Linked DNA regions of Homo sapiens: regions 1, 2, 3, 4 and 6 are each linked to region 5. The links come from fine-mapping of genetic effects on gene expression. A gene starts in region 5. Each other region holds a variant in brackets. All regions are shown on one strand. Distances are between the middles of the regions.

Evidence for each region. PIP is the estimated chance that this variant, and not a neighbour inherited with it, causes the effect.
Region 1: its variant is fine-mapped to the expression of UBQLNL in esophagus mucosa (GTEx, PIP above 0.99). The same link has a PIP of 0.9 or more in lymphoblastoid cells.
Region 2: its variant is fine-mapped to the expression of UBQLNL in lung (GTEx, PIP 0.95). The same link has a PIP of 0.9 or more in Th2 cells.
Region 3: its variant is fine-mapped to the expression of UBQLNL in whole blood (TOPMed, PIP above 0.99).
Region 4: its variant is fine-mapped to the expression of UBQLNL in whole blood (INTERVAL, PIP above 0.99).
Region 6: its variant is fine-mapped to the expression of UBQLNL in sun-exposed skin (GTEx, PIP 0.97).

The regions. Positions count from the first base shown.
Region 1 is chr11:5,594,213-5,599,289 of GRCh38, forward strand. It overlaps TRIM6 (tripartite motif containing 6), which reads left to right and starts at 2,425. Exons shown (of 8, transcript NM_001003818.3): 1 at 2,425-2,702. The coding sequence starts at 2,686. TRIM6-TRIM34 (TRIM6-TRIM34 readthrough) reads left to right here and starts at 2,425. Exons shown (of 14, transcript NM_001003819.4): 1 at 2,425-2,702. The coding sequence starts at 2,686. It also overlaps a transcript of TRIM5 not described here. RefSeq lists enhancers at 1,747-2,041, 2,196-3,113, 2,360-2,409. The variant G/A (reference allele first, on the strand shown) is at 2,545.
Region 2 is chr11:5,623,318-5,628,394 of GRCh38, forward strand. All of the region lies in intron 7 of TRIM6-TRIM34 (TRIM6-TRIM34 readthrough), which reads left to right. TRIM34 (tripartite motif containing 34) reads left to right here and starts at 1,684. Exons shown (of 8, transcript NM_021616.6): 1 at 1,684-1,743. It also overlaps a transcript of TRIM5 not described here. RefSeq lists enhancers at 1,293-1,372, 1,463-1,732, 2,103-2,202. The variant G/GGTC (reference allele first, on the strand shown) is at 2,398.
Region 3 is chr11:5,642,496-5,647,572 of GRCh38, forward strand. TRIM6-TRIM34 (TRIM6-TRIM34 readthrough) reads left to right here. Exons shown (of 14, transcript NM_001003819.4): 12 at 1-11; 13 at 322-348; 14 at 649-1,903. The coding sequence ends at 1,214. It overlaps TRIM34 (tripartite motif containing 34), which reads left to right. Exons shown (of 8, transcript NM_021616.6): 6 at 1-11; 7 at 322-348; 8 at 649-1,903. The coding sequence ends at 1,214. It also overlaps a transcript of TRIM5 not described here. Among named protein-coding and RNA genes, the nearest start is that of TRIM34, 20 kb to the left of the region's middle. The variant T/A (reference allele first, on the strand shown) is at 2,517.
Region 4 is chr11:5,617,971-5,623,047 of GRCh38, forward strand. All of the region lies in intron 7 of TRIM6-TRIM34 (TRIM6-TRIM34 readthrough), which reads left to right. It also overlaps a transcript of TRIM5 not described here and a transcript of TRIM34 not described here. Among named protein-coding and RNA genes, the nearest start is that of TRIM34, 4.5 kb to the right of the region's middle. RefSeq lists an enhancer at 3,463-4,071. The variant G/A (reference allele first, on the strand shown) is at 2,556.
Region 5 is chr11:5,514,790-5,518,789 of GRCh38, forward strand. UBQLNL (ubiquilin like) reads right to left here and starts at 1,910. Exons shown (of 1, transcript NM_145053.5): 1 at 1-1,910. The coding sequence starts at 1,652. The coding sequence ends at 225. It also overlaps the pseudogene OLFM5P.
Region 6 is chr11:5,660,152-5,665,228 of GRCh38, forward strand. TRIM5 (tripartite motif containing 5) reads right to left here. Exons shown (of 8, transcript NM_033034.3): 8 at 3,044-5,077. The coding sequence ends at 4,658. It overlaps LOC107984302 (a long non-coding RNA gene), which reads right to left and starts at 681. Exons shown (of 2, transcript XR_001748100.1): 1 at 1-681. The variant T/C (reference allele first, on the strand shown) is at 2,691.

The sequences.
Region 1 (5,077 bases), 80 kb after region 5:
AGATGAGAAATTATAGAGAAAATAAAAACTGCCTTGGTTAGCAAACAAAAAGGAAAAATTCTGCACACTGAGAAACAGTCTTTCATTCTGTTTTTTGTTTTCTTTTTTGTTTTGAGACTGATTATCACTGTGTTGCCCAGGCTAGAGAGCAGTAGCAGGATCATGGCTCACTGCAGCCTCAACCTTCCGGGCTCAAGTGATCCTCCCACCTCTCAGCCTCCCAAGTAATTGGGACTACAGGCACGTACCGCTATGCCTGGCAATTTACTTATTTTTTTTAGACAGGGTCTTACTATGTTGCCCAGGTTGGCCTCAAAATTGTGGATTCAAGCTATCCTTCCACCTCGGCCTCCCAAAATGCTGGGATTACAAGCGAGCCAACATGCCCAGCCAACATCCTTTTTTTTTAACTGAGCCTACTAGCCCCAGAAATGAAGCCCTATGCTGACAAGACTATGGAGCCTGTAAGTTACTTCCATTTATATCAGCTCTTAGAAAATGGCCTGAGAAGGGACTCTGGGTTGGGCTTCTCCATCCCTTTTCCAATATTTCTAACCCTCTGGGTGTCAATCATACCATTTTGTATTCCAAGGGACTTAAATGTTGGCTGGGCCAGTGGCAGGGTGGTGTCCATACTGGGCAGTTTGGGTGGGGTCAGGAGAATTTCAGAGCATAAGCAGGCTTTGACCTGAAGCGTCATCCAGGGGCAATATGGAGGCAGCCATACCTAAAACCGTTGTGAAGAAAGCTACACAAAGGGTGATCTGAAATAACCTTTGCGTGGCTTCTTAAGCCTGCAGACATGAGGTAGTCACTGAAATAGTGACACATGTCTGCACTTACGAGATTCCAATGACCTTTCATTTGCCTGGGGACTGTCCAGAGAAATCTCTTGATACTTAACCCAGCTCTCTCCCTACTGCCCAATCCTCCGTCCAGACTTTTGTATGGACACCCCAGTCCCTTCTCTCTCTATACCTCCCTCCCCAAGCCACCTTCTAAGGCAAGGTGATACTCACCTAATCAGTCTCCTTAGGGAGGAACTTTGACATTCTTTTTCTTCTCAGAGTTTCTGTGCTATTGAAACCCTGTAGTTAGAGTTCTGAGGCTCAATAAGCTTTACATGTATTCATCAGACCTAAATAAAAACAAAGATTGTCTTCTAGTTATATAGGTCAAAATTACAGATACACACACACAGCTTTATACATACATACGTGTAATTTTAAACTGATGAATTTTAATGATCGTTTGGCAAAACATGCCATTATGCAAAGGGGCTTTTACTCGTATAACTTTATATGTTTATTTAGACATTTTAATTAATACGTCTATATGGAGTACAGGTGTATTATCAGTGTAATTAAACTCTGATATGATATTAGAAAGCTACAGTACACTGCAGACAATTTACAAGGGTCATCTCTGGCCTGGTGTTCTCAAAGGCCTCCGGATTTGCCGTTCATCAGGTAAGATGAACAGCTTTGCGTTGCTACCTTCAAAAATTCTTTTTTTTTTTTTTTGAGAGAGAGTCTCGCTCTGTCTCCAGGCTGGAGTGCAACCTCCACCTCCCGGGTTCAAGCGATTCTCCTGCCTCAGCCTCCCGAGTAGCTAGGACCACAGGCGCGCCCAGCTAATTTCTGTATTTTTAGTAGAGACAGGGTTTCATCATGTTGGCCGGGATGGTCTCAATCTCCTGACCTCGTTATCCGCCCGCCTCGGCCTCCCAAAGTGCTGGGATTACAGGGGTGAACCACCGCGCCTGGCCTCAGAAACCATCTCCATCTCCCTTACCACCTGAGGGGTCACTGGTGACCACACCCATGGAATCGGCTGGATCTCCTGCGGGGCTGGACAATTTGACCCTCCTCCTCCCCAGGCCCCGCCCCTTCCCCCCTGAGTCTTTCGGCCTGGGTGGAGGACGCGGCTGCTTCAAGTCCTTGGCTCTGATCCAGGCCACAGATTCCAGGTTAGTGAGCAAGTTTATTTTCTGGCCAGCTACCGCTGTCCCCACTTGTCTGGAGAGTTTGACCCGCTCTGCAGGTCGGGTTGGGGGTGGTTCACGGGTGAAAGAAGAATGAGGGAGACTTCTGCATTTTCAAGTGAACTCAAGTTTGGGAAGGGAGCACAGAAGAGGCACCTTTGCAGCTGGGAATAGGCCGTGTAAAGAGAGTTAAACCTCTATTCTACAAGCTGAAGTATGTAGAGGAGGCAGCTCTGGAAACTGCTTTAGGGAATCACTGCAAACCATTTTGTCAGGCGTGGATTCAGAGTCAGCATCCCTTCCCCCCTTCCCCCGTTCTCCCCTTCCCCCCTTCCCCCTTCCCCCTTCCCCCTTCCCCCTTCCCCTCCCCCATCTCCAGCCTGGCCGCTCCAGGAAGTGAGCACCGTTTATCCCCCACCCCAGGCGGCCCGACTCCTCCCAGAAGGAGTTGGGAGATGAGCCTTCCGCAAACTCCTGACCTGTGGGTCCGTCCGTTCAACGGCCAAAGGCTGGCGGAGGAGGGATCCCCTGCCTTTCTCGGAACGGAACGGAGCAGAGTC[G/A]TGCGTGGTTGAGTTTAGATAAAAGCCGAGTGAGCGCGCTCTGTTCCTTAAGATTAGTTTAAGGTGCCTTGGATTGCTCTGAAGAGCTTTGACCACCTGATATTGCTTACATCTGGAACTTCTTGGCTTCTCATTCCCCAGATGTGCGGGTCAGAGAGGTATGTCTACCGTTCTGTTGACTGGCTCTTATTGTCACTTCTGGCAGAGGTGACAGGGCAGTGAAAGAGATAAGGTCCTTTCCCTTTCGGAACTCATTATATCTTTATTTCTTTTTCTTTCTCACTGCAAATGACCCCACTGAGGTTAGAGACATTTTAATCAGTCAGTCAATAGAGACAGAAATGTGTGGTTAGGAGCATAGATGCCGCAGCCAGACTGCATGTGTTCAAATCCTGACTCTGACAGACACTGGCTGTGTGCCCGAAGACTGTTAACTTGACTTCTTTGAGCTTTAGTTTCTTCCATCTATAAGATGGACGGAGTAATATGTATATCTTAGAGTTTTGGTGAGGATTGAGTGAGACAGATTTAAACACGTAGGAGGCTGCCTGACACAAATTATGGTCATTATTACTGGCAAACTCCATGCCTAGCTTTAAAAAAATGCACAATCAAAACAATTTTTAAATTATAGGTTTCTGAAATGCAGGGGGTAGAAATTCTTTTGAAGTGGAAATTAAATTTTTTGTTTTGAAACTGATTATGTTCCAATTCAAATATTTATTGAGTCCTGTTAGATAATCAATTGCAGATAATAGGTTAAATATAACCCTACACAAAGATAAAAAAAAATGTTATTCCTAAAGTGCAAGAACTCATGCCCAACTCACTTATAAATGCAACTGCCACCTATTTTATTCCACTTTCACTAGGGCTCCCAGCTGGTGGACGGGCCCGCTCTGTCATTCCTAACTCTGAACCCCCAGCCTACACCAGCCCCAGTATCCCCTGCTGAGTCACTGATTTTTATTCTGAAAGCCATTTTGATATCGATGCAAGCTTCCATTCTAAAAGATGCTTCGTATCTAAATAGCAGGCCATTCTCTGTCCCCCTCCCTCTTCTAGCTGTTTTGCACCCTAAATTGTATCCACCTGGGAAAGAAGGTCCTTTATCTAAGGCAGTGCTTCTGAAGCCTTAATGTGCGTAAGAATCACCTAGAGAACTTTAATATTAAAGTGCAGATTCTGAATCATTCCAGGAAAGACTGAGATTCTGCATAAAGAACTCCAAGTGCTTGCAGTGTTGCTAGTTAGCAGACCTTTTTCAGGCGTCTGGTTCTGATTTAATTGGTCCCACCTGGTTGTGAATTTGGGCTCTTTCTTCTGCTAATTTGATGCACTGGGCTCTGGGACTGCAGGCTCTTCTCGTCTGCACTCCTCACAGTCAGAATGCCTTCTCTCAGCCCGTCCACACTGCTCTGGAGACTTGGCCTCAGTTGGAAACTGGCAGCCTCCCATATCTCCCTTGGGCTGCACTTAGCTGCAGTGGGCAGTCAGGGCTTGCTGGTGTGTGGGCAAGGGTCACCTATGCTAACTGTATGCTCCCCTCCTTCACAATTTCTTTCCCAAGCCTCAGCTTTGACAAGAGACCTCAACTCTTACAAATCTTTTTTCTGCTCAAGAATTTTTCTCTGTCTAAAGAGAGTATTAGATGAATATCTACAGCGCATATTAGATAGGAAAAAGACATATAATGAACTAGAAATAGAATGAAGCCACATATGTAATGTTACATACTCAAGTAGCCTCATTAAAAATAAGCGGGTGAAATTAATTTTAATACATTTCATTTAACCCAATACATGCAAAATACAATTAGGACATGTGATCAACATAAAAAAATTAATAAGATCCTTTAACTTTTTTAAACTAAATCTTCAAAATCCAATGTGTATTTTGTACCTAAAGCAACCCATTTCTGAGTAGCCACACTTCAAATGCTCAAGAGCCATATCTGGCTACATGTTTGACAACACAGTTCCATTATGCTTAGAAGATCAGAAACCAAGCTTTTAATTTTTCTTGTATTTTTTTGTTTCTGTCAGTTTATTGAGTTCTATCTAGTAAGTTACAAATTGTAAGCATACAGTTCTGTGAATTTTCACAGTTGCAGTCAGCTGTGTAACCACCACCATGATCATGATACATAAAGGGCATTTCCCTTTATGTATTCACCCTTCAAATTTCCTTATGCCCTTTGCAGTTCAAACTTTTCTCCCACTCCTGGGCCCTGGCTTCCACTGATGTACTTTCAAATACCATAGCTTTCTCTTTTCTAGGATTTCACATAAATAGCATCATACAATAACTTAAATTTGATGTTTGGGTTCTTTCACTTTGCATGCTTTTGAGATTTATCTTGTTGTATATATTAACAGTTTAATTGTTTGGTAATATGCCACTGTATGGATACACCACAGTTTGTTCATTTACCAGTTAGTGATGTCATGGATTCTTTTCAGTTTGGGACTATTACTACATTGCATTTATGAGGCAGTAGTTCTCCTTCAAGAGAATTGGGTACGCTAAATAC
Region 2 (5,077 bases), 110 kb after region 5:
AAGTAATTGCGGTTCTTGCTATTATAATACTTTTATTTATTTTGTTTATTTTTATTTTTTTATTTTTTGAGACAGAGTCTTGCTCTGACACCCAGGCTGGAGTGCAGTGGTGCGATCTCGGCTCACTGCAACCTCCGCCTCCCGGGTTCAAGCAATTCTCCTGCCTCAGCCTCCTGAGTAGCTGGGATTACAGGCGCATGCCACCATGCCCGGCTAATTTTTTTTTTTTTTTTTTGTAATTTTAGTAGAGACGGGGGTTTCACCATGTTAGCCAGGGTGGTCTCGAACTCCTGACCTTGTGATCCGCCCGCCTCAACCTCCCAAAGTTCTGGGATTACAGGTGTGAGCCACCACAGTTGGCTTTATAATACTTTTAATTTCAAAAGCCGCAATTACTTTTGCACTAACCTGATAGTAATTGACTCCCTTAAAAGTAGTCAAAGCATATTCCCAAGGTATTGGATGTGGATACATTTTTGTGGGAAAGTTGTTAAACTTCCAACAAGTTTATAATTGTCCTTGATCACCATGCATGAGTCAGATGGAGAGGGCAAAAATGAAAATTGTACCTTGTCAGGTGGTTTCCAAAGGTGGCACCTTTTATTATGTAATGTGCTCTACAGGAGGTAGACTAGGATTGTTTTGATGCATACAGCACAGAAAATGAATCTATCAACTTATATTCCTCATGAAAATGGAGCATGCTGTTTGTGGAGGCACAATGTGGGGTCATCCTGTGACCAAACGAGTGGCAACTCTTGTTCAAGTTTCCTCCTCGTTCGGTTTGATTTCAAGGTTACCTCAGTTTCAAAGCAGCCCTTTCTGTCCAGGGCACAAAACTCCTGATTTACTACTTACAACTAGTGGTTCTCAGCCTCAGATTCGCGTAAAAATTACCTGGAAGACTTTTCATTTTTAAATAATGTTACTGATATATATGTTATATGCAATAATATGCACCCATTTACTGTGCACAGTTTGATGAGTTTTGAAAAAGTTTTACCCCTTTTAAAGATTTAGAGCATTTCCAACACTCCCAAAAGTTCCCCAGGTCCTTTGTAGCCAACTTTTCTCAGCACCATCCACCTCTCCGCCACCCATCCTCCATCTCCTAGCGGGTGACATGGTACTTTGGTAGGTAGCACACAAGTGGATCGTTGGAGCTGAAGGATAATTCAAATTGGTAAACTGATTCGAGGGACCATGTGCAACCATGAAAGTGGTAGGAGAAGGGGAGTTGGGTGTTTAGCTGGCCTGGGAGGCAGGGAAGGTTAAAACAGGGCTTTTCAAACACAGCACTATTGATGTTTTGGAATGGATCATTCTTTGCTGTGGGAACTGTCCCATACATTGTAGAATGCTTAGCGGCATCTGTGACCTGTACCCACTAAGATGCCAGTAGCATTCCCCTAGTTAACAACCAAATATCTCTTCAGACATTGCCAAATGTGCCATCTAGTGCAAATCCTCCATTCTGCCCTCGAGAATCACTGGATTAAGAGCATTACCTTCTGTCCAGAGGCTCTAAAGGACTACACAGCTCATTTCACCTAGACGCTCCTTCCCCTTTTCTCTTCCTGACAGCCCCAAAAATTTCACTTTCATTTCTCAGGCAGTTCCTCCTCAGGAGGGAGGGACTTCTTCACACAGAGGAACCTCATTTGTTGAATGAATCCTGACCACACCCACCCTGGCTTTTCTTCACCTCTTCAACCAGGAGCCGAGATTTCTGTTGCTCTGAAGGTGTGTGGGGAGGTTTGTGGGGGGTAGAGGGTATGAGACTCCAGGAGAAAAGTTCTCAGTGAAGTTAGGGGAATTTGATTTATGGCCCCAAGTCTCCCCTGCTCTGTCGGGAGCAAAGGCTAGCTTGCAGGCTTCCTGCTTTGAGTGCACACTGATAGCAGCCTAGAGTCTGGGGAGGGACAGCCTTGAAAGCAGTGTTAAAGAGGCAGAAGGCCGCCTTTGTTTTCTGGGGTGTCTTTTTTTCCTCCAGGCTGAATCTATTTCCATTCCCTTCCTATTGTATAATTTTGATTTTCTACCTTGCAAAGGAAACAATTCTCTCTCTCTCTTTCTCTCTCTCAAAGAGATGAACAGAAGATCTCTTATTTTCCACCTCCTACTCCCTCCTCAAAAGAGAAGTTGGTGAAAGGAGGTCTCTGTTTTCCAAGTGTGTGCAGGGCTTAGCTCCTAGTATGTGGCGTCAGATAGAATGGAGCCATGGGAGCACGGCCAGGGGTTGAAGTGGGTTCTTTTGCTGCCCTCCTGGCAACCACTAAGGGGCTTTCTGTGGCCATCCTCACGTATTCTTAGTCCTTGGCCTCCCTGACAATAGCAGGTTGAGTGATGTGACTGCCGCACACCGCTCTGTTCCCTCTGTTCCTATGTCTTTCTGCA[G/GGTC]GTCTCAGGGCTCTCCTTGCACATCCCTGAACATACCTGTTTACTTTTACTTCAGTAACCCATGTGCTACCAGCGTCTTCACCTGTCTCAGAACTTGCTCCTCATCATTCTTCCTCTTAGACACACCTTGGCATTGATTTGTAACCTCAATTTGTTATTGCTTTTCTTTGCTCACAATTACTTAACAGAAGTTGTTCATTGTGGGCTCAGAAGGAGCCCACGGATTTAATCTTCTTGTTAAGAATTTGATATAGAGTATGTCCTATCTTAAGCTCACTTGTGAGCAATTTGCACCTTGATTGATATGTTACAGATATTCTGACACATGCCATTCTGGCCTCTGCTCTCACCCTTCAGAGTTCACTGTAACTGCCATCCTGTGTCTCTGCCTTACTCCTGGGTAGAATCCATGTCTGCCTACATACTGACTGTCTCCCAGAGGCGTCTAGTCAGGCACAAGACCCAACATATGGGATAAAATTGATTATAAAGCAGGCTGCTAATGTAAAAACGTGCAATTAGCATCCATTTAACATTCAATAAATATGAAATATACGTGGAAGCCTACATCCAAATAGAAAGTGATCATAGACCATATCGATGAATGTTAGAGTACACAAGAAGATGACTAATACTATGGAGTAACATCTTCAAGAAGTTACATTAGGGTAATGACTCTGTAAAGACCTCATGAAGGCCTTGCAACTTTAAATAGTTTTTATGAAAGTTTTAAATAGTTTTCATTGTAAGAACACATTTGAGTAGAATCTTAAGAATGCGAGGAAATTAAAGGCTTTAATGGTTTTTCCCACGGGCTTAAAAGGAGAACAGTGTGGAAGATTAAGATGGGAGTGTGCCTGGAGAGGCATAAAAGGTGAGTTCTTACCAGGCGCGGTGGTTCACGCTTGTAATCCCAGCACTTAGGGAGGACAAGGCAGGAAGATCACCAGAGATCAGGAGTTCAAGACCAGCCTGGCCAATGTGGTGAAACTGTGTCTCTACTAAAAAAATGCAAAAATTAGCCGGGTGTGGTGGCGGATGCCTGTAGTCCCAGCTACTCGGGAGGCTGAGGCAGGAGAATCAGTTGAACCCAGGAGGTGGAGGTTGCAGTGAGCCAAGATCTCGCCATTGTACTCCAGCCTGGGGGAAAAGAGCAAGACTCTGTCTCAAAAAAAAAAAAAAATATGGTGAGCTCTGAGGATTGAGGCAGTGGGAAGGCATGTGTGATGTGGACCTAACTGGACCATTATGAAGTCTGGCCTCGCTCTGGGTGGCATGGGTTTGAACAGGAGAGTGACATGATTGACATCTGCTTTAAGGTGATCACTCTGTCTACTGATGTAAGAACAGAGATGAGAGCAGAGTGAAGAAGGACAGTGATGGGTGGGCACAGTAGCTCACACCTGTAATCCCAGCACTGTGGGAGGCCAAGGCGGGTGGATCACCTGAGGTGGATCATGAGTTTGAGACCAGCCTGGCCAACATGGTGAAACTCTCTCTACTAAAAATACAAAAATTAGCTGGGCGTTGTGGCAGGCACCTGTAATCCCAGCTACTCGGGAGGCTGAGGCAAGAGAAGCGCTTGAACCCAGCAAGCAGAGGTTGCAGTGAGCCGAGATCATGCCACCACACTCCAACCTGGGTAACAAGAGCAAAACTCCGTCTCAAAAAAAAAGGAAGGGCAATGATAGTATCAGCAAGACTAGTGGAAGAACAATTTCCTGAATTCAGGTGGTTTCTACCAGAGTGGTGGCAGTTGAGGTGGTTGGAAACTAATTTGAAAAAAAACTCTTTCAGCATATTCTCACGAAGTAACAGACAGAAAAAGACATTAGGGATTGCTTAATGAAAATGATTCTATGTTAAAAAATAGCTTTTTGGAGATATATTGACCAGAACACTACAGCTCTTGGGGAGAGAGTCATTAATGTGGTATAGATTGGGCCCTGGACTCTAAGGAGTAGCTGAAGCAAGAACTCAGTGCACAGAGGAATGGGGAGGAGATGCTACAATGTTTCTGAGCTCTCAGGGTCTCTGGATGTCAAAACAGGCTCTACTTTCCTTATTGGCAGTTTCTGACCAAGAATCCAGAAGAAGTGTCTAGGATATTGTCTAGAAACTTCAAAAGACATCCTCCCCTAAAAGTCACTCGTAGAGACACTCTAATTTTACTATCTACCTGCAGAGAGACTTAAAGTTTGCATTATCATATCCAGATGTTAGGAGTCCAGATGTTAGGAGAAGACTCAAATGAAGGGTATAATCACCTGGCAGCTATGGTAACCAGGTAACCTGGGAGTTCTGTCAGGCCAATGGCACTCATGTTCCCTTCTCTACCTCCCTGACTGCTGCTGGGCTTGAGCCACACTGGGAAGTGGTGGGGTCATTTCTCACACGTGGGACCGTGGTTACTCTGCACTTTTCTCATTCTTTTGCCATTATGGTGGCAGCAGCTTTGGCATCAACATGCATCCTCACTGTGAACATGAAGTCACAGCCCGTGGCAGAATGCATGTTCTACTACTTCCTCTCCTGGAGCCCCCCGGTATTTCTAACTATTGGTTGGATACTGATTGGAATAAAAGATAACAAAGAACCCCACATCTGTGGTTGGCTCATGGCTTTAGCCATAAACAGGGGTGAATATTATCATATCATATAAACTCCTTGTCTTACTAGT
Region 3 (5,077 bases), 130 kb after region 5:
AATGTTTAGAGGTGAGGAGAAGCAGACAAAGACTGTGGATGTGGGATTGTTGTGGTGTCAGGTAATAAACTGTCTAGGTGGGATAACTTAAAATTGAGGACAGAAGAGAGGAGGGAGGTCAGAGAATAAGGAATATTCTGTGGTGAAGAGGATGCATTTATATGTAAGGAAAAATGGCTAGGTCTCTGGTTTATCTTTTTAATTCACTAGCTCACAGCTTCATGGTATTCCCTTCCCCTGTCCCTACTCTAAAGAATATATAGGTATCAGTGCTTACTCCTTTGTTTCTAATCAGCATCACTGAATCTTTTATTATTTCAGAACTGACAGCTGTCCGGTGCTACTGGGGTAAGAAAAAGTTAGTCTTTAAATAACTGTTTTCCAATTACCTTTCAGAAGTTTATGGTTTCAATGATATCTTCTGATCTTAGCCTCATGCATTCTCAGCACCTCCCAAAACATTTGCTAAATACATTTCTCCAGTGTTTTACCCCTCCAATTCATCAGTGCAAGTTTTTCAGTCACTTCCCAAGTTCGTTCATCACCATGTCACTAGATAAACCTACTCCATATCTGTCACCTAATCATATATATCACACAGATGATTATATTCATATACATATATATATATTTTTTTTTTTCTTGCAGTGGATGTCACACTGAATTCAGTCAACCTAAATTTGAATCTTGTCCTTTCAGAAGATCAGAGACAAGTGATATCTGTGCCAATTTGGCCTTTTCAGTGTTATAATTATGGTGTCTTGGGATCCCAATATTTCTCCTCTGGGAAACATTACTGGGAAGTGGACGTGTCCAAGAAAACTGCCTGGATCCTGGGGGTATACTGTAGAACATATTCCCGCCATATGAAGTATGTTGTTAGAAGATGTGCAAATCGTCAAAATCTTTACACCAAATACAGACCTCTATTTGGCTACTGGGTTATAGGGTTACAGAATAAATGTAAGTATGGTGTCTTTGAAGAGTCTTTGTCCTCTGATCCCGAGGTTTTGACTCTCTCCATGGCTGTGCCTCCCTGCCGTGTTGGGGTTTTCCTCGACTATGAAGCAGGCATTGTCTCATTTTTCAATGTCACAAGCCATGGCTCCCTCATTTACAAGTTCTCTAAATGTTGCTTTTCTCAGCCTGTTTATCCATATTTCAATCCTTGGAACTGTCCAGCTCCCATGACTCTATGCCCACCAAGCTCTTGAATTTTCTCATTTCTTCACCTACAACCCTTTGTCTTGACTTATCTCCTGCAACTGACTCATCTGCAACATTCACACCATTGCTTCCTTGTGGTTTCCCTTCTTTAGAACTTTTACTCATCCTTGAGATGTATGGTGTATTTGGCTTGAGTTATGAGAGATGCTTATTTATTCATTTACTCTTTTTCATATTTTCAGAGAAAGTTACCTAATCCCTCCTAAAGACACAGCAGTATGGGTATAACATCCTTGCCTTCCCATTTATCCATGTTTCACTTTATCACTGATATGAAGAGGCCCAAAGCCTGTTAGCCACCATCCATGCTACCTAGGTAGTCCATAGGAACCACCCCCATGACCACCACCAACATCAACTAAAGGTTCTTGGAGGGTATGTCAGTGTGTTGCTCAGGATACCCCAGGTACATCAAGGAATCAAGGAGAGGAAAATATGAGCAATATGTGTATTCAGAGTGAAGATTTTATGTCCAGAGTATTTGAGCTCAAACCTTGCCTGTTGTTTTCTAATCATGATGAATACTTTCTCAGTTTCTTTTTCCTGAAATATAAATTGGGATTTAAGACTGTACCTAACTATTAAGATCACTGTGTAAAACTAAGTGTCTCTAAATGTAATGCATCGATTTAGTGTCTGGAACATAATAAATATTTGCTCTCATGATTGCTAAAAAGTGTGAGCTGTAGTAATGTCCTGTGCAATAGTTTTGTGGCCTTCAGAGGAATAGTAGTTGATTTTACTGAAGTCTCATTTTTCAAGTTCCCAGACTCCACTGTTAAGACCACTCCAATTTTAGTTTTGTTTTATAGAACTTTTTATACTGAGAGTGGGACTGTTTTTTTTCTTTTTTATTGTACATATTTAAGATATATATACTATGATGTTTTGATACACACTTACATGGTAAAGTGATTACTACAGCCAAGTAAATTATACATCCACTGTATCATATAGTTACCGTGTGTCGGGGGGGTGGTGGTTAGTGCATTTAAAATCTTTCTTAGCAAATTCCCAGTAGACAATACAATATTAACTAGAATCCTTGAAATAGTTGGGATTTTTGTCCTGCCCAAATCTCATGTTGAAATGTAATCCCCAGTGTTGGAGGTGGGGCCTGGTGGGAGGTGATTGGATCATGGGGGCCTCATGGAGGGCCTCGCACCATCCCCATGGTAATGAATACATTCTTGCTGTGAGTTCTTGGGAGATCTGGTTATTTAAGAGTGTGGCACTTCCTCCTGTCTCTGTATTGTTCCCACTCTTGCCAGAGATGTTCCTGTTCCTGC[T/A]AATGTTAGGATAAAAAAGTGATTATATTTGACAAAAAAAATTTAAGTTAGTACAACAATAAAAAAGTACGATAGGCTGGGTGCCTTGGCTCATGCCGGTAATCCCAGCCAGCACTTTGGGATCCCAGCCAGCACTTTGGGAGGCCGAGAAGAGAGGATCACGTGAGGTCAGGAGTTCAAGACTGGCCTGGCCAAAATTGCAAAACCCTGTCTCTACTAAAAATACAAAAATTAGCTGGATGTGGTGGCGAGCCCCTGTAATCCCACCTACTTGGGAGGCTGAGGCATGAGAATCGCTTGAACCTGGGAGGCGGAGGTTGCAGTGAGCTGAGATTGCACCACTGCACTCCAGCCTGGGCAACAAGAGCAAAACTCTGTCTCAAAAAAAAAAAAAAAAAACTGTGAAAAAAGTGGTTTGTTATATAGATCACCAAAAAATTATGAAACATTGTCATACAATTCAATGCTAGGTTTTAAATCTCTGTAAAATGAATAGGTTAAAATTAACAATCTTACAATCAGGAAGAAGCAGAAAATTCCGTAGAACCACAATAATAAAATGATGTAAACATTATAAAATTATATGTGTTCAAGTGCATAGAATGAGAGTACTTTTGAAGGTCTAATGTTTTGGGTCAGTTCTACAATCAGGAAGAAAAAAAGACAGGCCTACCTTTCCTTCTTCAGAAGAGAGTGGGGACAGAGGAGATTTGATGAGGGTCAAGTCTAGGAAAAGCTTCACTTTTGCTCATTGTATGTTGATTCTCTGGATACATTCCCACCTGTTCTTTGCCCTGATGATGAGACTTTTACCCAGATGTGACAACTGCTCTCTTCATCTCATCTAGTCTTCTGGAAAAAAAAAAAAAATATATATATATATATCTATATATAGATATATATAGATATATATATAGATATATAAAACATGTATATTAAATGTATATTAATATGTGTATGTATTTATAACATATGTGTAATTTATAATTATATATAATACATATATACATATGTATAGTACACATAAATATATTAGATTATATATGTATAATACATATAAATGTATACATTTTAATATACATGTATATTATATAAATATACATATACACACGTACACACACACATATCCCCAAATACACCAACCACCCTCATGTTTCTTCCCAGAATTCCAACCACCAGAGGCACAGCTTTTTTGGAAATATCATTTTACCACAGTAGCACTGGATGTCTGTCCACTCTGAAATGATAAAAATTCATAATATTGACTATATGCAAAGGAGGCAGCACTGACGTCAATTTTTTCTCCAGAACAGAGAAAGAGGAGGGGACTATGTTAGGGCAATGAATTTGCGAATAATAGCATGAAACAGTCTCTTGGTTATTCTCCATCAAATATGACCACATCATCAGCACACAATGTCCATCCTCCCTTATCTCTTCCATCTACGCCTAGAAACTGCTCTCTTCCCTGTCTAGCACCTGCCACCACTAGACTACTGCAGATCTAGTTGTTCTAGCTCTTCTCATCTTTACACGCTTGAAGCATTCCTCTTAGATGAGAAGCTCAACACACTTCCCTTTATTCTTTGGGAAACGTTTTTAGCTTAAGTCAAATTCTCACCCCTAGGAATGAAAAAAAATTGACTCCCAAACCTCTGACTTTGTAACCCTTGGACACCACTGATTTCCTATCATTTCACCCCACTGATGTACTTGAACTCTGTTCCCTGAGAAGGGAGAGGGCAGACCCTTGACCCTAGAACCAGACAAAATGTACTCGTGTCCACTTTCTCCCTTACTCTCTGTATGACCATGGGATGGTCTTAACCTCTCAGAAGCACAGTTTCTTCCTTCCAAAATGAAATAATTAATCTCTCCCTCTCTACCTTCTTGAGCTCATAGGACATGAAGAAATAATGGATTTTAAAAAAAACAAACAAAAAAACTTTGGTGCCTTAACAAAACGATTTAATGTGTGGAAACATCATTGCTATGGATGTGGGTTACCAGAAAGATGGTTAGACAGTGAGGTTGCAGGACCTGGCTCCTGGGTGTTTGAGACGTATCAGGAGAGGAATCCTGTCTGGAGAGGCCTAAGACCTTCAAAGCCTATTTCCACTAGAGAAGTGCTCAGATAATATCTGAGGTTCCATGTTTTTTGGGGAAAATTACCAATACTTGGCAAAGGGGATTTTATGAATACCAAACTAATAGTGGTCTGAATTTTGTGTGTTTAGAAAAGCTCTATATTGTCAAGTAGGTGTACAGTTTTAGACACTAAGATGTCACCTTTTCATACTCTTCTAAAGTATCTGACTGAGATGAATCAATTGTTTACACCAAGGAAAAAAACTATTCCAGAAATGCATATCTCTTTTTTTAAATCTAAATAGAATCACAAGGAAGGATCTGTTCTCTTCTATACCCACAGGAAAAATATAAATATATAGGAGTTGTCTGAATGAAAAATTTGGGGTGCTTGGCAGACAAGATATAATTCTCTTATAGCAAATGAGACATCATTTTTTTGAGACAAAGTCTCACTCTGTTACCCAAGCTGG
Region 4 (5,077 bases), 100 kb after region 5:
TTTCTGTCTGTTAGAAATCTGAAAAGGTCAGTGTGTGAGTCAAATCCTACTTTGATACCTATTTTTGTAAATGTACTTTATTGGAATATCACCATGCTTATTTATGTATCATCTGTGACTGCTTTCAAGTTACAACAGCAGTGTTGACTGGTTGCAACAGAGACTGCTTGACCTGCAAATCCTAAAATATTTACTGTTTGACCAGCCTGACCAACATGGTGAAACCCCATCTCTACTAAAAATACAAAAATTAGCCGGGCATGGTGGCCCGCGCCTGTAATTCCAGCTACTTGGGAGGCTGAGGCAGGGGAATCGCTTGAACCCAGGAGGCAAAGGTTGCAGTGAGCCGAGATCACACCACTGCACTCCAGCCTGGGCAACAGAGTGAGACTCCATCTCAAAAACAAACAAACAAACAAACAAATAGTCAAAGTAATGTATAATGCTCAAAATGTAATCTTAGGCCTAATGAAGGAATAGACTCCTATATTACTCATAAATGATATAAGTAATATTAAACTTGGGGTCTAGCTTACGTGACCAAGATAATGATGAAAACTTTAAGTTGAAAGCTTATGTTGAAAAACAAAATAAAATCATTTCATATGCAAATTTTAACACCACAGTCAGGAATGTCAATGGATATACAGGGTAAAAGAAGAGAGAAAATTAACCTAGATGATAAACTGTATACATTGCATATTGATTAATCTACTATAAAACAATGGCACAAGTACATGATTGTTTTGATTCTTGAACCTTGATTGATTATAGATAGCATCAAATGTAGTATACTCTGGGGGAGAAAAGATTGGACTATGAGAGGAAATTCTATTTTAAGCTTTGTACAATTATAAGACATAAGGAGGACACAAATCTCATTAAGGGCAGATTTGGGAGAGAAACAGTGACAAAGCTAAAACCGTGACTTATTTGGGAAACATCAGTGTAGCATGATAAGGACAAGCCATTTTATATCACTCACATGAGCAGGCTTCATGTCATTGGGTAAAAATTCACAGTAATCCTGGAGAAAATGAAGAATGTGTGAATCAATGTATTGTGTGCAAACGGTGATATGAGGGTAGCCTGAGTCATATGAACTCCCTGGGAAAAACGACCAGCTTTGTGTATGTAGCAAGTGGACTTGGTACTCCTATTACCTAAAAAGAGCCTCTGCAAGTACTTATTGACAAAAGTTGACATCTACTCTGCATATGGAATAGCTGTCCCTGCCTCTCAGGCATTTTGTACCATAAAGGCCAACAGATTGCCATTATCAATATTTTGATGTCCTCAAAACAGTTTCAGTGGTAACCACATGATCGTACAAGAATACGCCTCCTTCATTCTGTTGCCAGAGAAGTACAGGAATCTTCAGTTCTTTGTCTTATTTGGAGAAAGCATTCTGCTTTCCAGTCTTTTCCAGTGGAGAGTAGGCCTTTGTTATGGGGGATGCTCTGAACATATTTCAGAATGGTTCTTTTACTCTCTCTCTGCCAGAAAAGAAAGGATCTTTTTCTTGGCTTTCCACTATGGGAACTCACTTTGGTTTTTGGAGGTAAATTCCAAGCAAGTGGGGCGGGGGCGGGGCCCTAAGTCTAGGTGCTAGGAGTTTCTCTCTCTCAAGCTAGTCCATAATCAGCCTCCGGCAATTTGTCAGAACTACTATTTAAGTGTTCCTACCAGTATATGACTCAGGCAACTCCTGTTTTAAATTTTTTTTTTTTTTTTTTTTTTTTTTTTTTTTTTGAGACTGAGCCTCACTCTGTTGCCCAGGCTAGAGTAGTGGTGTGATCTCGGCTCACTGCAACCTCTGTCTCCTGGGTTCAAGCGATCCTCCTGTCTCAGCCTCCCGAGTAACTGGGATTACAGGCGCCCACCACCATGCCCGGCTAATTTTTGTATTTTTGTAGACAGGGTTTCGACATGTTGGCCAGGCTGGTCTCAAACTCCTGACCTCAAGTGATCCACCCGCCTCAGCCTCCCAAAGTGCTGGGATTACAGGTGTGAGCCACTGCGCCCGTCCTGACTCATGCAACTTCTGCTTCAGGTAAGCAGATTTAGGCTGTTTATTCTGTGTTTACCTGTCTCTACATTTTGGGGTGGCAGTTTTTTTCCTGTGACTTTATCTGATGAGACTTAGGAAAGTCATTGATTTTTAGTTGGTTTAGCTTTTTTTTCCTTTTCTTTCTTCTTTTTTTTTTTTTTTTTTTTTTTTTGTTGAGACTGAGTCTCACTCTGTCGCCCAGGCTGGAGTGCGGCGGCGGGATCTCGGCTCACTGCAACCTCCGCCTCCTGGGTTCTATGGATTCTCCTGCCTCAACCTCCCAAGTAACTGGGACTACAGGCGCGCGCCACTGCACCCAGCTAAGCTTTTGTATTTTTAGTAGAGACGGGGTTTCACCATGTTGGCCAGATTGGTCTCGAATTCCTTGGCCAGACTGGACTCTAACTCCTGAACTCGTGATCCGCCCGCCTCAGCCTCCTATAGTGCTGGGATTACAGGAGTGAGCCACTGCGTCCAGCCAAGCTTTTTTTCTCTTGTGAGGGTT[G/A]CAGTAATGAGTCTCAAGCTCTTTACATGTTGGAACTAAAACTGGAAGTTCCTGGTATTCTTTTCTACTTCTGTAGTAATTCTCTTTCTTTGGAAATCACTTTCTCTGTCTGCCCAGCTAAGTCTCCATTTTTCAGGTTATGGGTGCACATTATGCCTTACGGTGGGAGGGGCAGAAGTACTGTCATGGGCTCCCTCTGCAATGGTGTTTGTCAGTGTTCTCTTCCTCCAGATTAGCTTCTTCTTTCCATTAAGTGAGAGGCTCTGGTAGACCTCAGGAATGAAGCAAAGCCTGTTCTGCTCCTACAGTGAGATAGCAAGGCAAAAGCTGCTGTGCAGTGTTCACATAGTATATATGGTAGAGTCCCTGTGTCTTTTGGCATTTTTGTTGCCAACTATCCTTTCTCTGCTTCTAAACTAGTAAAGCAGTTACTGTTCTGGTCCCAGCTTTACTAGAATATTTTTAGTCCCCATATCTTGGTGACCTTTGGTGGGGGAAGCGATTCCAAGTTAGATACAGGCAGTTTCTCTATGTGTAGACACACATTCCTATCTCCAGCACTCATCCATAGCAACTGGAGGAAATTCACTTCTATCCATTTTCCTTTAACCCCTGCATCCCAGTCACCCCTTTATTGCAATGCCCGAGGCTCTGGATCACTCCAGGCTGCTGCACTCTCTTAAATTCCAGGTAACTCTTTTGGGATATTTATGACTTTCATTTTCAGGGCTTTGGGACCTGGGAGAATGGTGTGAGTAAAGCCAGAGGGATCTGAGAAGACAGATACTTTACTCCTGCACTGGTGTCTCTAGATAATTTCCCAGCTGGCTCTCTCTGCCTGTGTAAACAAGCCTTGAGGATATGACCCTTGCCAACTCTTGTTAGCCACTCCTGTTTACATAGAGCTCTAAGTACATGCCCATGGAAATAGCTGCATATTCTTGAATGACTAAACTTGCTCATTTTTCTGTCCAGGTCATTTCTGCTATCCAGAAGCACAGCTCAGCTGAGAGTGAGGCACCAGAAGAATGCCTAAGAGTTTCCAAAAGTGATGATTTTTCTACCATTAATATATTATATGTTGGTAGTATGAAAGGAAAATAAATCTTGGAGCTTCAAAATCACTAGGCCAAATAGAAAAGTCAAGCTGGGAACTGCTTAGGGCAAACCTGCCTCCCATTCTATTCAAAGTCATCCCTCTGCTCACTGACATAAATGCCTATCTGATTGACTCCTTTGAAAAGGCTAATCAGAAACTCAAAAGAATGCAACAGGTTGTCCTTCACCAACCTGTGACCTGGAAGCCCCCTCCCTGCTTGAGTTGTCCTGCCTTTTCAGATGGAACCAATGTACATCTCACATTTATTGATTGATGTCTCATGTCTCTCTAAAATGTATACAACCAAGTTGTGCTCTGATCACCTTGGGCACATGTTGTCAGGACCTCCTGAGGCTGTCAGGGACACATGTCTTCAGCCTTGGTAAAATAAACTTTCTATATTATCTGAGATCTGTCTCAGATTTTCGGGGTTCAGACTAGACAGTTGTTAAGAAAATAACAAAAAGACATTAAAGACATAGCATAGTTGCATGTCCATTGAACTCAGAGAAATGAGTTTTTTAAAAAGGAAAAAACTCAGCTGGGCGCGGTGGCTCACACCTGTAATCCCAGGACTTCGGGAGGCCGAGGCAAGCAGATCATGAGGTCAAGAGTTTGAGACCATCCTGGCCAACATGGTGAAACCCTGCCTCTATTAAAAATACAAAAAATTAGCCGGGCGTTGTGGCAGGTGCCTGTAGTCCCGGCTACTTGGGAGGCTGAGGAAGGAGAATGGCGTGAACCCGGCAGGCGGAGCTTGTAGTGAGCCGAGATCACGCCACTGCACTCCAGCCTGGGCGACAGAGCGAGACTACCTCTCAAAAAAAAAAAAAAGAAAAAAAGAAAAATTAGCTGGACGTGGTGGCGCATGCCTGTAATCCCAGCTACTCAGGAGGCTGAGGTAGGAGAATCGAACCTGGGAGGCGGAGGTTGCGGTGAGCCAAGATCATGCCATTGCACTCCAGTCTGGGCGACAAGAACGAAACTCCATCTCAAAAAAACAAACAAACAAATAAAAAAAACCGGAAAAAACTCAAGTGAACAAAATGAATGATGAAAAATTGAATGTCATCCACACAGAACTGATGGGCTAAGGTAATATACACATCTCAACACATGCTTTAACAAATCTGTCTGATGCTTTACTATTGTAAATGAAAGAGTATCTGAGAAAACTCTCAATCAATTTAGGAAGTTTATTTTGCCAAGGTTAAGGATGCACCCATGACAGCCTCAGGAGGTCCTGACAACATGTACCCAAGGTGGTCAGGGCACAGCTTGGTTTTATACATTTGAGGGAGATGTGAGACATCAATCAATATATGTCCGCAAAGGCGGGACAGCTGAGTCCGGAAGGGGGTTTCCAGGTCATAGGTAGATAAAAGACAAACAGGTTGCATTAAGCAATAGGGCAAAGGAAGTA
Region 5 (4,000 bases):
GACTGTTCCAGGCTTGTGGCAGCACTCAGGTCCCTTGGGCTCAGCTGTATCTGAAACATTCCAGGAACAGGGCACTGTGTCAGGATAGCTGCAGCTGGGGGCAGGAAGCCAACCCAGGCCCCATAGGTAGGGTGCAACCCAAGGCAGAAGAACAGGAGCCTCTGTGGCCAGCAGCTGGAGGGCCTGCTCAATCTGCAATATTGCTTGGAATGCTTTAGGGTTGCCTAAGCACTAAGCAGATCAGAAATCTGTGTCTGCTGCAGGAATGTGGGCAGCTGCTGCCTCCACTGTTCACTCAGCTGGGGCATACTTGTGAACAACATAATCTGAGCTGCCAGGTAGGGGTTGTTCATAAGCAACTGCATCATGCCTCCTGTGATCTGGGAGCTGCTCTGCTCATCTGACAGCTGGAGATCACCCTTTAATGTCTGTCTGGAGCTACTTAGAGAAACAGTGGCATCCTTGTATTCTTCTTGAAGCTGCTGGGTAAGCTCTATGCTAGGTAAGGCTGGTATCCAAGCTGGCTGCCGAGTGGCACAGATATGGCTCTGGCCCTTGGTGGAAATCATAGCAGTGTTGGCTTTGGAAGTGTGGTTGACCTTGTTAAGGGTGTCATTGGCTGAGGTGTTTGAAGAGAAACCACCAGAGCTATTATAGATGACTCGGGTTGCAGGATGCTGTGTGAGCTGGTCTTGTTGTTCCTGTGATGGTGGTGGAGGTGGGGGTGAAGACTGGACTTGTTCTAGCACTTGTCCTGCCAGGAGAGCTGTGAAAGGGTTTCCTCCAAAAGGATCTTGCATGCTGTTCAGCATTTGATCATTGATATCAGCATAGTTCTGACCCAGGGCATTATTCCCACCTGGCATTGTCTCTAAGCCCAGATATGGCTGTGGGTTCAGTGGATACTCAAGGTTTTGTGAAGGTTGTTGGATCTGCATTATCTCTTGGATCATAGCAAGGTTCCTGGCCAGCTCCAGAGTCTGCAATAGGATCTCAGAATTATCAAGAAGAAGGCGGGAAACTTCTGGGTTCTGCTGCATCAATTGTTGCGTGTCTAGATGTTCTGAAATGAACTGCCACATGAACTCCATGTTGGACAGAAGCCGCTGGATGCTAGGATTCTCCAGCATCTGTGCTTTGCACTCTGGGTGGCTCACTTCCAAGTTTTGGGTATGCACTTTGGGTGCATCAGACCCCACAAAGTGGGCCAGTTCCACTGGAGCTTGATTCATACCAGTTGGTTGGTGCACTCTGCTGCTGTTTCCTTTGGTGTTTCTGTCCCGGTGGCAGGGATCATTCGTTGGCAGGTCCCGGAAGGAATGGGCTAGAGATCTGGAGCCCTGCTTGGACTTGATGACCAAGTAGATGGTGTGGCCATCCATGATGCCCCTCTGGCTCAGTGTGTCATGGTCTTTGAGAAGGCAACCCATGAAGACCAGCACTAGTTGGTCCATCTGGCATTGGAAGTGAGCCAATAGCATCTCCTTGAACTGCCTTACCGAGATGTCATCAGCTACCATAAAGTCTTTCTGGTTGCCTGCAGTCTTCACTATCACTCGAGTGGCACTTGAAGAGATATTTTTGTCTGCCAGCAGACCTGATGGACATCCACTCTGGGACATCCTGGATGTTCGAGAGATGGCATGCCACATGGGCTTTAGTGGGTGGGCAGATGGGGAGCAGGTGGAAGCTGGGGCAGAAAGGGTGAGGGCAGACAAATGTTTCTGCTGGCCTTTGTCTCAGGTATTGTGCTCTCAGGCCACAGGATAGTTTCCTTGTTGCCCTAAAAGGGATGAGTGACCAGACTGGGGCCAGATATTTTGTGATGTTGTGCCCTCACCCCAGTTCTCCAGATGTGGCCCAGCTGAGGCCTGGCATAGCTACTGATTCATAATTCACCCATGGTGGACAAAGTGGTGATGACTTCTCCTAGGGCTACCCCTCCTCCTACCCCACCCACCAGGGGCATGAATCCTCAGAAAAGGGATATTGTGATGTCAACTCTATCCTCGCAGTCACCCTGGGCCAGCTGGGGAAGGAGGACATATTTAGGGGTCCAGGGCTCTACAATAAAATAAAATAATTTTCCAGAAAACAGGGACAAAGTTCTCTGGATGGAACTAGTAAGAAAACAAAAAAGTAAATAAAAACCATATTTTTAAATGTGGGATGTGTGTTTCCGTGTGATACTGTGTGTATGTTCCTTATAGGGATGTTAGACTTGTATGAAAAGTTGGGTCTACTGAAGCCATAGATAAAGCCACATTCCTATAAGAATGCAGTCTCTCCCATAGGAAGGAGCGCATTAATTTTTTTAATGATCTGGAAATTTGGGTCTTATATAGAGTCTAGATTTTGGGATTCTATATTTAATTGTGCTCCCATGTGGTGGGGAAAATTTTCCTCTGTCCTAGGAAGCAGGAGTAGGGCTAACCAGGAAGGCTCTTCATAGGCACATGCCAAACTAAATGTGAATTAGCTCTTTTTTATAATATGCCTTTTATTCACATATCACTTGGTCTCTTCTACATGTCAATATAACAGAAGTTTTAGAATGATTTGTTTCAATGTCCTAACCCACTCTTGTGTGCCCACCTTTATGTCAAAGCATTAAGGGGGAATGTCGTCTGTAAATCAAGAGGTGGGAGAGGAGGTGGTTAGTAGTAAAATTCTTAAGGGGACAAATACAGGCAACTAAAAAGCTGGATTCTTGGTCCCATGTAAATTTGGAGAATTGTGTTTGGTTTTTATTTAGATGCAGATGGAAATAATTATTTATATGAGTGAGAGTGTACATGTCTTATCGAATGTATATATGAAATTGTATGCATATTCTGTGTTACTAGGAAGCCTTCAGGGTCTGGATTTTATATATTCCATCCACCTGCCTGGAGAGGGAGGAGCACCACACAGATAGCTAAGGAACAAGCAAAAAGCTCGAGCCCATATGTTCCCAGTGTGTTGAAGACAAGCAAAGGGATGATAGGCCGTTGGCCAGGAGACCTTCTGCTATCAAACCAATGATTCTTTATTGAGAATATCTAGACCCCCAGCACCATCCATGTCAGATCCTCATCATGCTATAAGGCCAGTTGCTAACTTACTACAGCAAGACTCAGGCCTATTCTCTTGCAATTGCACTCAAAAGTGAGATCGATCCAGGACAATGAAAAATTGATTACCAGACCAAGATCTTGCCCCTTTTCTCCCCAGGGACCTCACAGGAAGGTGGAGATAAGAAAGGGAACTTTCATATCCTACTCTAATGACCAGCTGCCCTGCAGCTTCTGCACTGGAATCAGGTGTTCCCAACCTGAGATTGACAATTCTAGATCACAGAACTCTTGAGTTCCGGGAGCTGGATTTATGAAAAAAGGAATATGAGATGCCAAAGCATCAGAAAGAGAGGGTACCATTTTCTTAGCTAATATTTTACTTTTTCCCTATCAAATCCACCTAGACCATTATTAAAGGGAACCTTAATGTACTGATTGAGATATTAATTACATAAAGAACTCACTAGATATAATCAGTCTTCCAATCATTAGGACCAATGGCCACTTTGGGATGTGGTCCTCCTGGAGGTAAGGAAGAGGGCACACTTCTACCAATGCTCTGCCTAGCCCTGGGGTCTCAGGGTCTGGAAGCCTCGTTAGGTTTGACAGGTTTTGGTGGAGCATGAGCCCCAGAGGGCCTCCTGGTGGGTGGTCTTGGTAGCCTGGTCTTCATTGTCAGGAAGGTGAGGTCATAATTTATCAGGTAACCATCACTGAAGACATACGGCTTGTGGTCTGAGGGGCAGTAGTTGATGCCCTGCAGCTTTTCCAGCATCTTGTCCAACAGGATGCTGAGGCGGCGCTCCTGCCCGGTGGTGGTGTCAAAAGCATAGAAGATCTCCTCTTGGTGGGTGTTCAGTGAGTGTAAGGCATAGAGCACCCCACAGGCCATGAAGGCCCCTGACAGGGCTGGCTTGTACTGGCTGGTACGCCAGGTTTTCTCC
Region 6 (5,077 bases), 150 kb after region 5:
TTTTTAGTAGAGACGGGGTTTCACCATATTGGCCTAGCTGGTCTCGAAATCCTGATCTTGTGATCTGCCCACCTCAGCCTCCCAAAGTGCTGGGATTACAAGCGTAAGCCACTGCGTCCGGCTCATTCTTGTTTTTCAAAGCAGCAAGTACATATATTGTTAACTGAGTTTTTAGTGTTCTACCCAGTAACAACTGAGGTCTGCCTTCAAGTGAAAAGCCACAGAAACAGGAAACTCCCCCAATACTGTTGTCTTTTTCTAAGTGTCTATTACCCTGAATATTCTGATTGCTTGTCACTTTCTAGTGCCTTCAGGTTTGATTTTTACATTTTGTCCAAGGTTTCTAATGTTGGATCTGTGGGTGAGGGCATGCAGTTTTATTAGAATATATACCTTCATTAATGGAAATAGAACCTCAGTTTTGCTCACTCTAGACAATCTTTAACTATATGTTAAATTGATTGATTTTACGCTTTCTTTCTCTACCAAACTGCCGGATTTTTTTTTCAGTGTGGTTGTAATGTTTTGCACTGCCACATAATTCAGAAAGAAAATAATGGTGGTGTTGGAGTATGGTGGTTAATACAAAGATATTATTAAGTTTAGATAGGCCGGGCGCAGTGGCTCACGCCTGTAATCCCAGCACTTTCGGAGGCCGAGGCGGGCGGATCTTGAGGTCAGGAGATCGGGACCATCCTGGCTAACACGGTGAAACCCTGACTCTACTAAAAATACCAAAAATTAGCTGGGCATGGTGGCAGGTGCCTGTAGTGCCAGCTACTCGGGAGACTGAGGCAGGAGAATGGCGTGAACCCAGGAGGTGGAGGTTGCAGTGAGCCGAAATCGCGCCACTGCACTCCAGCCTGGGCGACAGAGAGAGACTCCGTCTCAAAAAAAAAAAAAAAAAAAAAAAAAAAAAAAAAAAAAAAAAAAAAAAAGATTAGATATATGTTTAGGCATATTATGAGATTTAACTTATGTATCTTATTGATACTGAATAGGATCAAGGAGCTCAGAACATAATTGTTACCTTGTGACAAGTATAGCATCAAGAAGGAGTATTGGTTGCAATGTCCAAAGAAAAAAACCAAAGAGATCTCTTTTCCAAAGAGCTCTCCTCTGCCCGATGCTTATTCCATCCCATCCCTCCAACACATCATATAAACGTTCTTTTACTTTTCTCTCCCTTTGAATCTTAGAATTGGCTCTTCATCAGGGCACCTTCTCTTTAGCCCCTACGAACTCTCATTCTGCTTCTTCGTATTCTTTGTCCTCCCACTGGTTTCTGCTTGAGGCCTGCTCCCATTCTTTACTCAGTGTCCTGCAGAACAGTCTTCAAGCAATCCCTGTTTTTTTTCACAACCTCTTTTCTCTGTGCTTCTCCCCAGATTGTACCAAAATTCTAGCCAGATATGCCTAATTAATGGCCCAGCATAGATCTGAAGTCTCAGAATAGAAGACGACATAATTGTTACTCAGAGGTTCAGAAGTGATGGGGAGGGAACATCCTAGAACTGATACACAGGCAGAGAGAAAATCCACAGTTGACGTCCATTAGCCTTTTGGAGCACAGGTTGCCTTCTTCAGCCTTTTACTGAGAAGACGGAGTGTAACTCAGAGCAATTCATAAGCTTCATATTCTTTTCAGCTGAGAGGTTCATTACTAGGGCCAGGAGCATCTGTTTGAAAAAATCCTTCAGTGTGCAGATCTTTTCTGTTGTATATACAAATTCAGGTCTTTATTGTTGTGTAACTGGGTACTTCATCCTGAGCTGTGGGACTTGGCTTTCCAGGAAATGAAAAGGCATTAATGTCCCTGGAGAGTCACTTGCCAATAATTCAAGCTAGTCCAGACTGTTCCCAGTGAGTGAAAGCCTCAATCTTCATAGCATTGGGTGACAGGAAAGCAGAGGTAAAAGGGAAAATTTATAGCATCAACCTCCTCGGTTTCCCTGGATGGTGCTGAGGTAGAGAGGTGTGTGCACACACATAGTTACTGAAAATATTCACCTTGGAATCCCTTCTCTGACTAAAGTTACCACAAAGATAGAGACCTTAAAATTTCTGTGGGGAAGCAGGGTGAAGAGCAGAGACTATTTGATGAGGTAGACCATTAAAACAAAACAAAAAACTTCAGCTCAAAACTTGGGAAAGAGTTGGAAATAAAAATGCCAATAGACATAGGGATCCTACCATGCCCTTCATAAACATCCGTTGCAAAAATAATTCTCCTCACTGAACAAGGAGAACAAGTATTTTTTTGTCATTTATGAAAATTACCATGCCTTTGTTACTTTAATGAAGAGTCAGGCTAACCTGGGCTCACAATTCACTTATCGATACCATTGTTGAGAAATGCCACATGTACTTCTGACTTTATCTGCATCACTGTGCAAAATACGTTTTTACTACTTGGCAAACAGGAAAAATTTACAATGAAATTAGAGTACTCAGAAATACTTAAAACAACTTAAGACTAGGCAGCTATGAAATTAAGAACAAAGATTTTTTTTCCCATTTATAAACACTTATTTTAAAACTTTCTACAAGAAAAATCTGTGATTTTTAACTTAGTTCTTGTATTTCTTCAAACGAAGGGAGAAAGATAATTTTGAAAAGAACTATTACATATTGTTAAAAATTATTGCTTTCAGTCACAGTGAGAGGGAACCAAAAATTAATAGACACCA[T/C]AATGAGGCCGGGCATGGTGGCTCACACCTATAATCCTAGCACTTTGGGAGGTAAAGTGGGCAGATCGCCTGAGCCCAGGGCTTCGGGATCCGCCTGGGCAACATAGTGAAACCCTGTCTCTACCAAAAATACAAAAAATAACCAGGGCGTGGTGGTGCGTGACTGTAGTCCCAGCTACTCAGGAGGCTGAGGTGGAAGGATGAACCCTGGAGATGGAGGTTGCAGTGAGCCGAGATCGTGCCATTGCACTCCAGCTTGGGTGACAGAGACAAACCCTGTCTCAAAACAAACAAACAAACAAACAAACAAACAAACAAAAAAGCCCAACACCATAATGGATTACCCCTTACATGCTAGAAATGAGTGAAGCTATTCAAAAAACTCGTTTAACTTTTAAAAAACTACATCAGCTAATTTTATTATAATTATTTTTTACAATTAATAAACTGATTCCCACATAATTCAGTTTGTTTGATAAAGACTAATATGTAGCAACACTAGAATTACAATAAAATCCTAAATATATGTGTGTATTATATATAGAAGGCAGAATTGAAGTCATTTTGACAGTAGTATCTGAGATCTAAAAAATGAGAATTTAGTAAATCCAATCCTAGTTTCCCTGAAGGCACAACCTGTTCCATGAGACATTAACAGAGTTTATGTTTTTCAATAATTTGTAGAACAAGTACTTATTAGATCAAGACACTTAGATAGATGCTTTATACTTCAGGAATTTATTTTTTCACAATGATCCAAAGTATTAGATGAAGGTTTTTTGTTTTATTTTGCTTTTAATTGACAAATAATAAATATACATATTTATGTGGTACAGTGTGATGTTTTGATACATGTATACATTGCGTAATAACCGAACCAGGGTAATTAGCATATCCATCACCTCAAATATGTGTCATTTCTTTGTGTTGAGAACTTTCAAAATCCTCTCTTCTAGCTATTTCAAAATATATGCAATAGGTTATTGTTAACTCTAGTCACCCTACTATGCAATAAAACATTAGCACTTATTTAATGTGAAGTTTTTAATACAAAAATTATTTTAAGAAAATAAGCACAGGCTGGGCGCCGTGGCTCACGCCTGTAATCCCAGCACTTTGGGAGGCCGAGGCGGGTGGATCACCTGAGGTCAGAGGTTCTAGACGAGCCTAACCAACATGGGGAAACCCCGTCTCTACTGAAAATACAAATTTAGCCAGGGGTGGTGGTGGGCACCTGTAATCCCAGCTACTTGGGAGGCTGAGGCAGGAGAATTGCTTGAATCTGAGAGGTGGAGGTTGCAGTGAACCGAGATCGTGCCATTGCACTCCAGCCTGGGGAACAAGAGCAAAACTTCATCTCAAAAAAAAAAAAAAAGAAAAAAGAAAAGAAAAGGAAATAAGCACAGCCATTTAAGTATGTTATTCACAGTTACACTGCTGGTATATGGAGAGACAGGAGTTGAACTGAGATCCTCTAGATACAAAACCTCTATACTTAAGAGTATACCATTTATGATATTTTCTCTTTAACTCACAAATAAGGGCATCGAGGGTAAACTGACACAGGGCTAAGGACTCATTCATTGGTGAACAATTATCACACGATGATATAGAAAGGCTGTTGAAAAGCTTTTCTTCATCTTCTTAGTCAGTGTCAGAGGCAATTGGGTGATAAATATCTGGCAGAAGTAATACCTAAATAGCGGTCTCATTTTATGAGGTATAGGTCAGTTTTCCTTAGGAGTACGGAAAATGATGAAAAAAATTGCTATCAAATGTCAATAAAATATTGGGGACAATATGGCACAAGGCAATTATTACATTTTACTGATGAGTGAAGGACGTTCAAATAGAAAGAAGGGAGACAGCAAGGAAAAGATGGTTAAAATGATGCAAATGAGTTCAGGTGTATGAGATGCACCTGGACAAGAGGTGCTGTACAGAAGGGGCTGAGTGTGTAAGAAGGTTCAAGAGCTTGGTGAGCACAGAGTCATGGGGACTCCACATTTTCTAGGATTTAAATATGGAAATACAGGCTGAGAAAAAGAACAGTGAGAAAACTTATAGATGAGAAATCCATGGTTTGTGATATTGAAGAATGAGACAGTGCAAGCCTCATAGTCTAGGAAAACTCCAACACGATCAGGACAAATAATCACAGAGAGGGGCACAATGAAAGGAACAGAAGGAGTATGGAAGGAACTATCCTGGAAAGCACTACATTTAACTCCTTCCTCTAACCCTATAACCCAGTAGCCGTATTTAGGTTGATAATTTTCATTTTTTTCAATATTACACATTGCATCAGGTTGGAAGCCAGCACATACCCCCAGGATCCAAGCAGTTTTCTTGGACACGTCTACCTCCCAGTAATGTTTCCCTGATGT